Regions from separate parts of the Homo sapiens genome. Here region 2 is linked to region 1. Evidence: fine-mapped expression QTL. A gene starts in region 1. The other region holds a variant in brackets. All regions are shown on one strand. Distances are between the middles of the regions.

Region 1 (5,373 bases):
TGCGGGGTGTTTTCCTAACTTGTGTGTGTGTAGAATGCTGATGGGACACCAAACACACACACTCAGGTTCAGAGCAGGCACCCCAAATCGCATGCATAAGGGAAGGGAAGCCCGCAGGAAAGAGGCGTCCCTCCCCAAGGAATGGTGTCCACCTCAACACACAGCCCTGAGGAAGTTCAGCAAGCTGGATGATCCGCGGAATTGCCTCAGTTTACCAGCTCTCCGGAGAGCGGTGGCCCTGGCGGCTGTGAGTAAACAGGCCTGTGCTTAGTGAACCATCCGCTCGAGCGGGTGTGTGTCTGCTAGGGACTTCTGCACTTCCTTTTAGGAGCCAAACATCCTACAGATCCCTCCCCGGCAAGTGTCACTCACGCCTCCCATTTCCCATAGATGCCTTCTCTTCCCCTTCCTTCCCCAGAAGCCCCTCCCCTCTGACCTCCACCCACAACTCCGGGAGGACTAAGTTGCCCAAGTTGCCCAAGACTGGAGACCCAATCATTCCTCTCCTGCTTTCCTCTAACTCTCCCTGATGCCTTTCCCCGCCTCCTCCCCTCCTCCCAACCCCACCTCCGGCCTCTCCAGCTCAGGGCTGCAGCCTGGGGAGAGCTTCTGGGAAGGGTGGGATGCAGCTCCCATTTACCCCATGTCTTTTCGGCAACTTCTGGTGGCAGGGACATAGCAGCGGCTGGGGAGCAGGTCATAGATGGGCCTATCCTGGGCCCAGGTAAGGTCTTTATGCCAAGGCGGACATCTGGAGCCCTGGTCCAGGATGTGTCGACATACAGACAACAGAACGCATAGTCTAAAAACATAATTTAATGCATCGCGGTGAGTCTGAGTCAGGAGGGAATGCGGTGTGGAGAGGTGAATTTTCTGTTTGCTGGAATTCTGCTGTGGGTGGGGTTTTGGCTGATGGACAGGGAAATCTGCACAAGTATTTCGGGTCACAAAGAAGGACGCCCCAGGAAGCCCGCGCTCCCTCTGGCCTACCTCCCTGGCCAGGGCCCGGAGCCCTCCGCTTCTAGGCACTGGGAGGAGGCTGTCTGAGGAGGGCAGGCTCCCGGCCCTGCCTGTCCAGTCTAATCAGGTTTGCAAAGTCTGTGCCGCCGCCTCAAGGGCTCGGGCGTCCCTTCCTCCCTTGCCGGGATGGGGATGGAGACCAGGAGCACAGCCCTGAGCGTGGTGGGTCGCAGACGCACTGAGGCCAGGAGCGGGGCAGGGAGGACGCAGGGATTTGTCTTTTCCAAAGGAGATGTCAGGAAGTGTTATGAATCGAGAGTGGCCTTTGCCAAGGAGCCGCGCCCGGGCGGAGACCGGGCGGCCTGCAGCCACCCCGCCTCGCACCCCCCGCGCCCCTAATCCGGGTACAGAAGAAAGCCCGAGAACGTGCTGTACTTGTTATTATTGCCTCCGTGAGCCTTCCCGCCATCCAGCTTCACATACACTTCGTCCCCTGAATCCAAGTGCAGCACCACGCTGTTACTGGCGTAGTCGTAGTTCTGGTCGGCGTCCTGTGCAATGGCGCTGGCCCGGACCTGGGGACAAGCGGTGGGAGCAGGTGAGCCGGGGCACCTCTTCCCGCGCCTTTGCTCAGCCCACACCAGGCGCGCCACTCACGGGCCTCCCGCCTGCTGCTTCAGGGTCCACACTCCCACCCCAGCTCCATGTTCTCTCTCCAACTTAGTCAACTCCTTCCAGGTCCCCCCTCCTCCTCGCGCCGACGAGTCTGGGAAATAGGGAGAGGGGAAGCTTCATGAACACTGACCCAGAGTGGAAGGGTGGGAGCCAGGGGCCAGGGCCAAGAGGAAAGGAGGCTGCAGGGCAAGGGGGCGACCTGGAGAGAACTAAAGAACTGAGGTTTCCGAGAAGCCCACGGAGAGGCAGGCAGGGACGCAAGTGGCCAAGGAGTGTAGTTTAGGTATGGGGGTCTCTGGGCTCTCAAGGCCCAACATTTGGCTCTACGTCCCGGTGAGCGCGGCCTCGGCGCATCGGGAAGCGGAGATACTGTGGCACCGAGGCGCGTTCATTCCCGGGGCTCGCAGGGTAGCCCGCGGGTGGAGAGAAAGGAGGCTGGTTCCCTGGGAGGTTCAGGGCGCGGGCGAGGGTTTACGGGGGCCGGTGAGTGTAGGGGTCACTGACCTGCCCGTTCTTGCAGAGGTCCGCCCACATGCTGGTGCCGTCGCCGCCGCGCATGAGGATGTGGTAGGTGAAGAAGTAGATGCCGCGTACCTGGCAGCTGAACTTGCCCGTGGTGGGGTCATAGTGATTGCCGAGGTTGGTGACCACGTCATCGAACTTCAGCACCTCATAGCCTTCGTGGGGGCTCTTGAGACCCACATAGAAGGCGATCTTGGGGCCGCTGAAGGTGGCGCTCAGCGCACTGGTCACTTCACCCTCGGAATCGCCACCTACCCCGGCCCCGCCGCCCACCACCCCGACGCCGCTGGCCGTGCCCGCCGTCAGTTGCAGCCCTGGCAGCCCGGGCCGCCCCGAGTCGCCCTTCTCTCCCGGAGGGCCCCTGGGTCCAGGCGGGCCCGGCTCTCCAGGGGGCCCCCGCGGCCCTGGCTTGCCCGGTCGCCCCGGGTCGCCCTTGGGTCCCTGGATGAAAGGAGGAGGAGGGTTGGCGCTGAGGTCCTGCATGACTTCCAGGGCGGCGGTGCTGGGTCCGGGTGGCTGCGCCTTTGCACCCGGGGGCTCCCCGCCGGGCGCGGCAGTGTAAGGGTCGCAGATCATGCGGCAGGTGCCCATCATCTCATAGTGCGCGGCGCCTCGGGGCGCCGCCTGCAGCAGCAGCGGCACGGCGATGAGCAGCCCGAGCGCCATGGCCAAGAGTACGCCGACGGCCGCCAGGCAGGCACGCCGCCGCCGCTGCCACAGCCGGGAGGCGACCGCCACCAGCTCCTCCTTGCCGCCCGGGGAGGTAATGGTGGGGCGGCGCGGGCGGCCCCGCTCCCCGCGCTCGGGGACCGGCTCCGCGGGTCCTGGCCGCGCCCCCGACGTGGCGACCCCCAGCCCCGGCTACCCAACTACTTCAGCGAGAGGCGCCGGGACCTCTGAGCCTGGGCCCACCGCGCTGGGGCTGGTCGGGAGAGCCGCGGACGCCCGCGCGCATGACGTGGGGCACACAAGACGAATCCGGCGCCCCGAGGGTCCGGCGCCGGCCAGGGAGTGCTTGCGCTGGCCGGGGAGTCTGCTTGCGGCGTCCGGCGCTGGCTCCGCGGCGCTGCCTCCCGCCAGGCTCCGCTCCGCTGGGTTTAGTGGGGCTCCTAGCGCAGTGAGGGCGCCCCGGCTCCGCGGCGCGCTCTGCTGTGCTCTCTCGCTGTTCGCTGGCTCCCGCGCGGAGGGGGGACCCCGCTACCCTGACGTAAGGAGTCCGGGGCTGAGCGGCGGAGGCGGCGAAGCAGCGCGCGCTGCCATCACTCGGGAGACGGAGCCCTCATGTCATCAGCCTCCTATCTGGCGGCGTCCTCGGCAGAGGCGGTGAAGGCGCGGTTCCCCCTGGCGGCTCCCAGGAGCCACAAGTGGGCGCAGCGGGCGCGGTCCCAAGCCGGGGCACATCGGACACACCCACCCGCGGCCACACTCACGCGCCCCCCACCGATAACACACACAGACACCCACGCACGCAGTGGCGGGGCACGCACAGCCACCCCCACATGGCCACGAAAGCAGCTGGAATCCAGGTGTCAGCAGGGCTCCTCTGGGGTCACCTAATCCATCCCCTGGCCTGCAAAGAGGATCAAACCTCAACCCACCGAGTCCAGGAGAGTCCCGTGAGGTCCAGCGGGAAGGAGTTTCTGAAAGACCTCCTGAGTTATTTCTTCAGAATTGAATAGATCTCGCTTCTGGAAGATCTTTCGCAAACCTAGACTAAGGACTCCAGACTCTTAAACAGGCTCCCGTAGAGCACCCCACTAACCTCTGAGGTGACTCTAAAAAGCCCAAGGCTCCCAATACAAGAATATTTGCGGCCGGGCGCAGTGGCTCACGCCTGTGATCCCAACACTTTGGGAGGCCGAAGCGGGCAGATCACCTGAGGTTGGGAGTTTGAGACCAGCCTGACCAACATGATGAAACCCCGTCTGTACTAAAAACACAAAATTAACTGGGCATGGTGGTGCATGCCCGTAATCCCAGCTACGCGGAAGGCTGAGGCAGGAGAGTCGCTTGAACCAGAGAGGCAGAGGTTGCGGTGAGGCGGGATCGTGCCATTGCACTCCAGCCTGGGCAACAAAAGCAAAAGTCCATCTCAAAAAAAAAAAAAAAAAAAAGGAATATTCGCCTCAGACCTTTTCTTCCACCAGAAAATGGCTGGCCCTTGTCCTCTGCGTGAAGCTGGTGTAGAAACCAAATGCTTGATGCCGGCACTTGGCAGTGATCATGGTGCACTCAGCTTCTACTCCAAGCCCGGCCACTGCCAGGCAGATGCATGGGCACATTCCCTTGGACATCCCCAGCTTCCTCCTCCTGAGATGGGTTTAGTTATTTTAGAAAATAGTCCAAATAGTCCAAAGCCATTCTGAGCCAGTCTTGAATAAACCATGGCCTCAGATGAGAGCAGAATAGTCTATCTCCAATGTAGCATGTGAGGCTAAGGAAGGATGAGAGGCCCGCCGGTGTGGGAGAGACTTCCAGCGGAGAAATCAAAGCCCCAGCTTCTGCTCTTGCCCTGAGTAGCTGTGTGATTTTGCCAGGTGGTTCCTGTCCCTGAGACTCAGTTTCCTTAAAAGGCCGCCTCCTGCCCTAGCACCCCCAACATGGGAATCACACCAGGCCTGTCCTGGGGGGAGAATCTAAGGGCTGGTGTCAGTGTTTGGTGTAGCATCAGCATCTCTGGAACAACAGTGCACCCACCTAAGGCTATTGCTTTGAAGCTAACTCTCATTTGTCCTGCACTAGGTTCTTACGGGTTAATTAAAATCTATTTTTGTCCTCTGATCACCCTGGGTCATTTCCCCACTCCCAACCTCGTTGCTCTAGCCTGTTCTCTCCACATATATTTGTGGAAAGGATGACTGAGCCTAGCCGGAAGCCAACTTTACCAAGGAGAGAAGGAGCACATTTATTGGCACCTACTACGTATGCATCAGGCACTTTGCACGTGCTCCTTCATTCATTCCTCATGTTACTGTGGATTAGTGATCATTTTCCCACCGCACCAATGAGGAAAAAAAAAAGGTTTTGCAAGTGTAGGGTGTTTGCCAAGTGCATTTTACCCACATGACAGAGCCAGGATCCTCCCGGCACCCAGATCAGGGGCTATCTGAACCTGTCAGTGAACACAGCTTCAACAGCTACTTCTTGGCCACAGTCTTCACTGGTTTCCTCAGACTTGGGAGTCTTTCTCCACTCTCTGCCTCAGAGTCATCCCAA
Region 2 (5,373 bases), 75 kb before region 1:
TATTAATTTATTATTAATAAATAATAACATTTATTGTTAAGGATAGTTTTCTCTATCCTGACCACTGGAGGAAAACACTGTAAATGCCCAGAAATAAAGTTTTGACTAAATAGATTCTGGTTTACTCACATGATGAAATATTATGCAACTATTATAAATATATTTTGAAAGAATGCTTAATGATCAAACAATTCACCCACAATACATTTTTAACAGCCTTATTGAGATATAGTTCATATGTGATATAATGTATTCATTTAAAGTATGTAATTCAATGGTTTTTTTTTTTTTTTAGTATGTTCACAGAATTCTGTAACAATCAATTTTAGAATGTTTTCATTCCTCAAAAAGAAACCCTGCCATTAGGAGCCACTTCCATCACCCACTTCCCAAACCTCCCAGCCTTGGGCAACCACTAATCTACTTTTCTGTCTCTACAGATTTGTCTTTTTTAAGCATTTAATGTCAATGGGTATGTATCAGTGGATATGATATGTGGACTTTTGAAATTGGCATCTTTCACTTAGCATAAGGTTTTCAAGGTTTATTTATGTTGTAGAATGTGTCAGTACCTCTCATTGCTGAATTACATTTCATTGTGTGGATATACCACATTTATTTATTCATCCAGCTGTCAATGGATATTTGGGCTGTTTTCATTTTTTGGCTATTATGAATAATACCACTATTAACATTTAAGTACAATTTTTTTTCTGTGGGTGCAAGTTTTTATTTCTCTTGGGTCTATACATAGGAGTGGAATTACTGGATCAGATGGTGACTCTATTCTTGACTCTGTGAGGAGCTGCCAGACTGTTTTCCAGTGCAGCTGCACCATCTTCTATTCCCAGCAGCAGTATACAAGAATTCCAATTTTTCCACATTCTCACCAACACTTGTTATTATTTGTATTTTTATTATAGCCATCCTCACTGTGGTTTTGATTTGCATTTTCCTGATGGCAAATGACATTGAACATATTTTCATGTGCTTATTGGCTATTTGTATATCTTCTTTGGAGAAATATCTACTCAGATCCTCTGGTCATTTCTAAATTGGGTTATTTATCTTTCTATTATTGAGTTACAAGAGTGCTTTGTATATTCTGGATACAAGCCCCTATCAGTTATATGATTTGCAAATACTTTCTCCCATTGTGTGGGTTACCTTGTCATGTTATACAAATTTATAATTTCTAAGTATTTTTCAATTACCTACTATATGCCATGAAACTGTGAAGTAGCCCAAAGATGCAGAATACAGATACTTTCTCTCCCAAGAAAGTACTAGTAAAATATTCAAAAGATAGTATAAGGTAAAGTGCTAGTATTAAAAGAATCCATTCATGAACATATAAGATTCCAAGTTAGAACCCCGGGCAGTCAGAGTGGGCCTCATGGAGGAGGTGGGCCTCATAGAATGAGCAGCAATCAACAGGGCAGAAGCAGGGAAGAGTCAAGGTAGAAGAACAAAAGCGTCCAAACCAGGTGGTCATGGTTGGGGGGTAGTGCAGTATGGAGACCTACACCTCAGTCAGGGTTACAGGACAGTGATGTCAGGGAGAGGACCTGGAATTTAAATCTGCCCCCACTGTGGGCTATGATAAGGGAAAGAGATGAGGAAACCAAGGTAAAGAAAATTATGTTTGAGTAAGATTTATCAAGCACCAAAGGCAGAATCAACTAGGGGGAGCACTGAGATTGAGAAGAGCCTAGAGGCATGGGCCTAACCTAGTTGGTTGCAGCCAGGGTTGGAGAGTTCAAGAAACAGTCTGAAGTCCGTTGAGGGAACTTATAATCAACTATGTGATCTTGGGTGGGTCCTGGCCCCTTGCCTGGCCTAAGGATCCTCTGTAAAATCAAGCATGTATCCACCAGGAGGATTTTCAGCTGCAAGTAATAAAACACTAACAAGCAGTGGCTTAAGCAATAAATATATTAATTATCTCTCATAACAAGAAATCCAGAGTTAGACTGCTTTGGTCTTGGTGCAGTGGCCCAGTGACATCATCAAAGATTCCAACCTCTTTCTACTTTCCTGCTCTGCCACCATGGGCGTGTTGGCTTGCACCCAGGATCACACAACGTCTGCTGCAGCTCTAGAACATCCAATGTGCTCAAGGCAGGACACGGATTCGAAGACAGCACCAGGCTCATCTGAACTTTCTATTAGGACAGTAAAACTCTCGTAGAGTCCTCCAGGAGACATGCTTTGTTCTTCATTGGCCATGATTAAGTCTCACGTCCCCAACCCCAGCTAGAGGAGCATCTGGGAAAACGGAAACAGAATTGTCCTGACTGGCTTAGGCCAACCATGCTCCATTGCCTGTATGAGAATTCTGTTAGCTGGGACAAGGGATAGGCATTGGGAAGAGAATTAACCCAGGGACTGAACAAGGCCCCTCCCAATGCTCACAGCCCACGGGGTTCTCTCATCTCCAGCTGTTCTGCTTTGTGGCTCCTCTCACCCGCTTCCTGCAACTGCTTCTTCCCTTCTTATTTGGCCTGTAGAGAAAGCAGCTGCTCTCTCTCTATCTCTTTGTTTTGATGAACTTAAAAGTCGATTCCATCAAACAACCCTTTTCTTCCATCAATGCCAGTCAGACTGACTTTCCTAGCATGGCCAGTATTTTAATCACTCAAAAATTGAGGCGTGATTATGGACCCCCACCCCTGCCACTCAGTGATGAGCACAGCCTCTGTGTGTCCCTCTGGTTGTACCCTGCCTCTGCCTCGATGCTCTTGTGGCATTCATTTAATTTTTCATCCTGAAATTTCTCCTTCAAGTCCATCATGTGGAACATGTGACACCCCCAGCCCTGCCTGGCCCTCCTTCCTCCCAAGGGCCTGTGCCGAGTGTGACAGTCATCAGAGGCTCTGCCTCAGCTCAGCCACAGGCCCTGAAAGGTAACTGGACAAAGATTACTTGAGCTTCCTAGAGCCCCCTACAATGCCTACACAGGGCCCATCAGGTGAGGGACTACGGTCGATGACTGTCACGAGGAGGA[G/C]TTGTCCACATGGCCACCAGCCGACCTGGTTCCAAAGTTCTCAGGGACCTCGTACATTAAAGTTTCCCACATCTGGCCAGGCACAGTGGCTCATGTCTATAATCCCAGCACTTTGGGAGGCCAAGGCAGGTGGATCACCTCAGGTCAGGAGTTTGAGACCAGCCTGGCCAACATGGGGAAACCCTGTCTCTACTAAAAATACAAAAAGTAGCCAGGTGTGGTGGCACATGCCTGTAATCCCAGGTACTCAGGAGGCTGAGGCAGAGAGAATCGCTTGAACCTGGGAGGCGGAGGTTGCAGTGAGCTGAGATCATACCACGGCACTCCAGCCTGGGCAACAGAGCAAGACTCCATCTCAAAAAACAAAAAAAAAAAGTTTCCCACGTCTGTGACCAGGGCTGGGTTGGAGCCACGTATAAGCCAGCCCAGCTCTTGGAGAGAGTTTGTTTCCAAGGTTCTTTCCTATCACTTAACTGCTCATCTGACCCAGGCATGCCCAACCGGCACCCACTGCCACCTCCTTAGTCTGTTGCAGTGCAGCATTTTAATTCAAATTGTTTCCTCTCTCCTCTATTTCATCCCTCAAAATTACACAGGGCAATATCTCCTATTTCTATACCACGTGCACTATTGTTTTCATCTCCTCATAGCATCTGTATAATCATATCTTCATATTTTTACACGAACTGTCTGTTCTTGCTTAAATACATTTTTTTAAAATAAAACTTTATATCACTATCCCCCATGGAAAACAAACATTATTTTCCTGAAATGGACAGTAACTACAAAAATAAATGCAATGAAAACAAAACAATGGCAACCTGGTACTGCATAATAAACAGTATTTGTGTAGAGTAGGTGAAAAAGCTGGAAGTATTAAGAAGATGGAAGGTGCATCAGCCCCCTGAGAAGGCGGTGCACAGGGACACCCGTGATGAGAATATGGAGGAAGACTGAGCTGCAATTACTCAGCTCACTCAGAGGCCGCTAGGTCTGGATTTGGTCCAAATAGCTGGGAGAGATTTTTAGACCAAACTTCACAATTCAGCATTTTCTGTGTTTCCCCCTCTTGCTGGTATTCTATCCTAAGCGTATTAGACACCTCCCGATGCCTGGTGCCTTTGTCTTTGAATTTCTGATGATGGTGGCAATGTGTGGTAGGGATGGGGGATCTTTCTGACTCTGGCAGGACGAAGTGCCTGTCCATGTTCACTTTGGGGCCCATTCTGGGATGCTTGGGCCAAAGGTGGAGAGGAAGAAATGCAGGACCACAACAATATCCTGTCCCCAGGTGCTGCGCCCATGTATTTGGGTACAACTTCAAGCCCCATGGTTGTCCTAAGGCAATGGATGGGGTTTTCCACAAAGGTGATCCAAGAGAGGCAAGGATGCTTCTAATGTGGGTGAAAACATCTCAAGCAGAGTTAAGTTGCAACACTAATGATCATGCAGAAGCCTAACATTAATATAGACGTGACAATGAAATCAAAGAGAAAACTTCCAAAACTGCCACCCTTTGGTCTCTGGAGTTCTTCAAGCAAGTGGCTTTGGATGCCCAGGGATATGGGCCAGGAGAAGCTATATGAGAAGGTGCTACCTAAGAAGCTCTTGCATTCCAGGCATGAGGAACTAAGCAGGAAGCAACATCTGTGAAGTACTGGAGATCTTGCTGAGGATTTAGCCAGACATGCTTTTGACTTCTAGCTTTGGCATCTAGGAGCTGTGTGACCTCAGGAAGTTGCATAACCTGTCTCTGAGCCTCATCAATTAGATGAAGCTGGCAATACTTATCTCACAGTGCTGTTGCAAGGATTATTATTATTATTATTGTTATTATTATTATTATTTTGAGACAGAGTTTTTGCTCTTATTGCCCAGGCTGGAGTGCAATGGCCTGATCTCAGCTCACCGCAAACTCTACCTCCCAGGATCAAGTGATTCTCCTGCCTCAACCCCCCGAGTAGCTGAGATTACAAGCATGCGCCACCATGCCTGGCTAATGTTTTATTTTTAGTAGAGATAAGGTTTCTCCATGTTTGTCAGGCTGGTCTTGAACTCCTGACCTCAGATGATCCGCCCACCTCGGCCTCCCCAAGTGCTGGGATTATAGGCATGAGTCACTGCACCTGGCCCGCAAGGATTAAACTTAAAAGCACATGTAAAACACCAAGTGCAGTATCTGGCATATTGTAGATGATCACTAACAGTAATTTTAAAATTATTATTCTCATTTTCCCTGGATTTGTCTGACATGGTAGGACTACACTGGCCCTATTTTCTAAATAAACCAACAAAGGAGCAAATAAAGAGAAGCCAAGAGCAATCTGTTCTATGACAAAAAGAATAACAAATAGCAAGAAAAAACA

Evidence for each region. PIP is the estimated chance that this variant, and not a neighbour inherited with it, causes the effect. A credible set is the group of variants that fine-mapping cannot tell apart.
Region 2: its variant is the best candidate, but not a certain one, in a credible set for the expression of C1QL2 in lung (TOPMed, PIP 0.56).

Annotation. Positions count from the first base shown.
Region 1 is chr2:119,155,447-119,160,819 of GRCh38, forward strand. C1QL2 (complement C1q like 2) reads right to left here and starts at 3,305. Exons shown (of 2, transcript NM_182528.4): 1 at 2,140-3,305; 2 at 797-1,535. The coding sequence starts at 2,823. The coding sequence ends at 1,356. RefSeq lists an enhancer at 1,673-2,483.
Region 2 is chr2:119,080,746-119,086,118 of GRCh38, forward strand. No RefSeq gene overlaps it. Among named protein-coding and RNA genes, the nearest start is that of C1QL2, 75 kb to the right of the region's middle. RefSeq lists a silencer at 4,942-5,108. The variant G/C (reference allele first, on the strand shown) is at 3,008.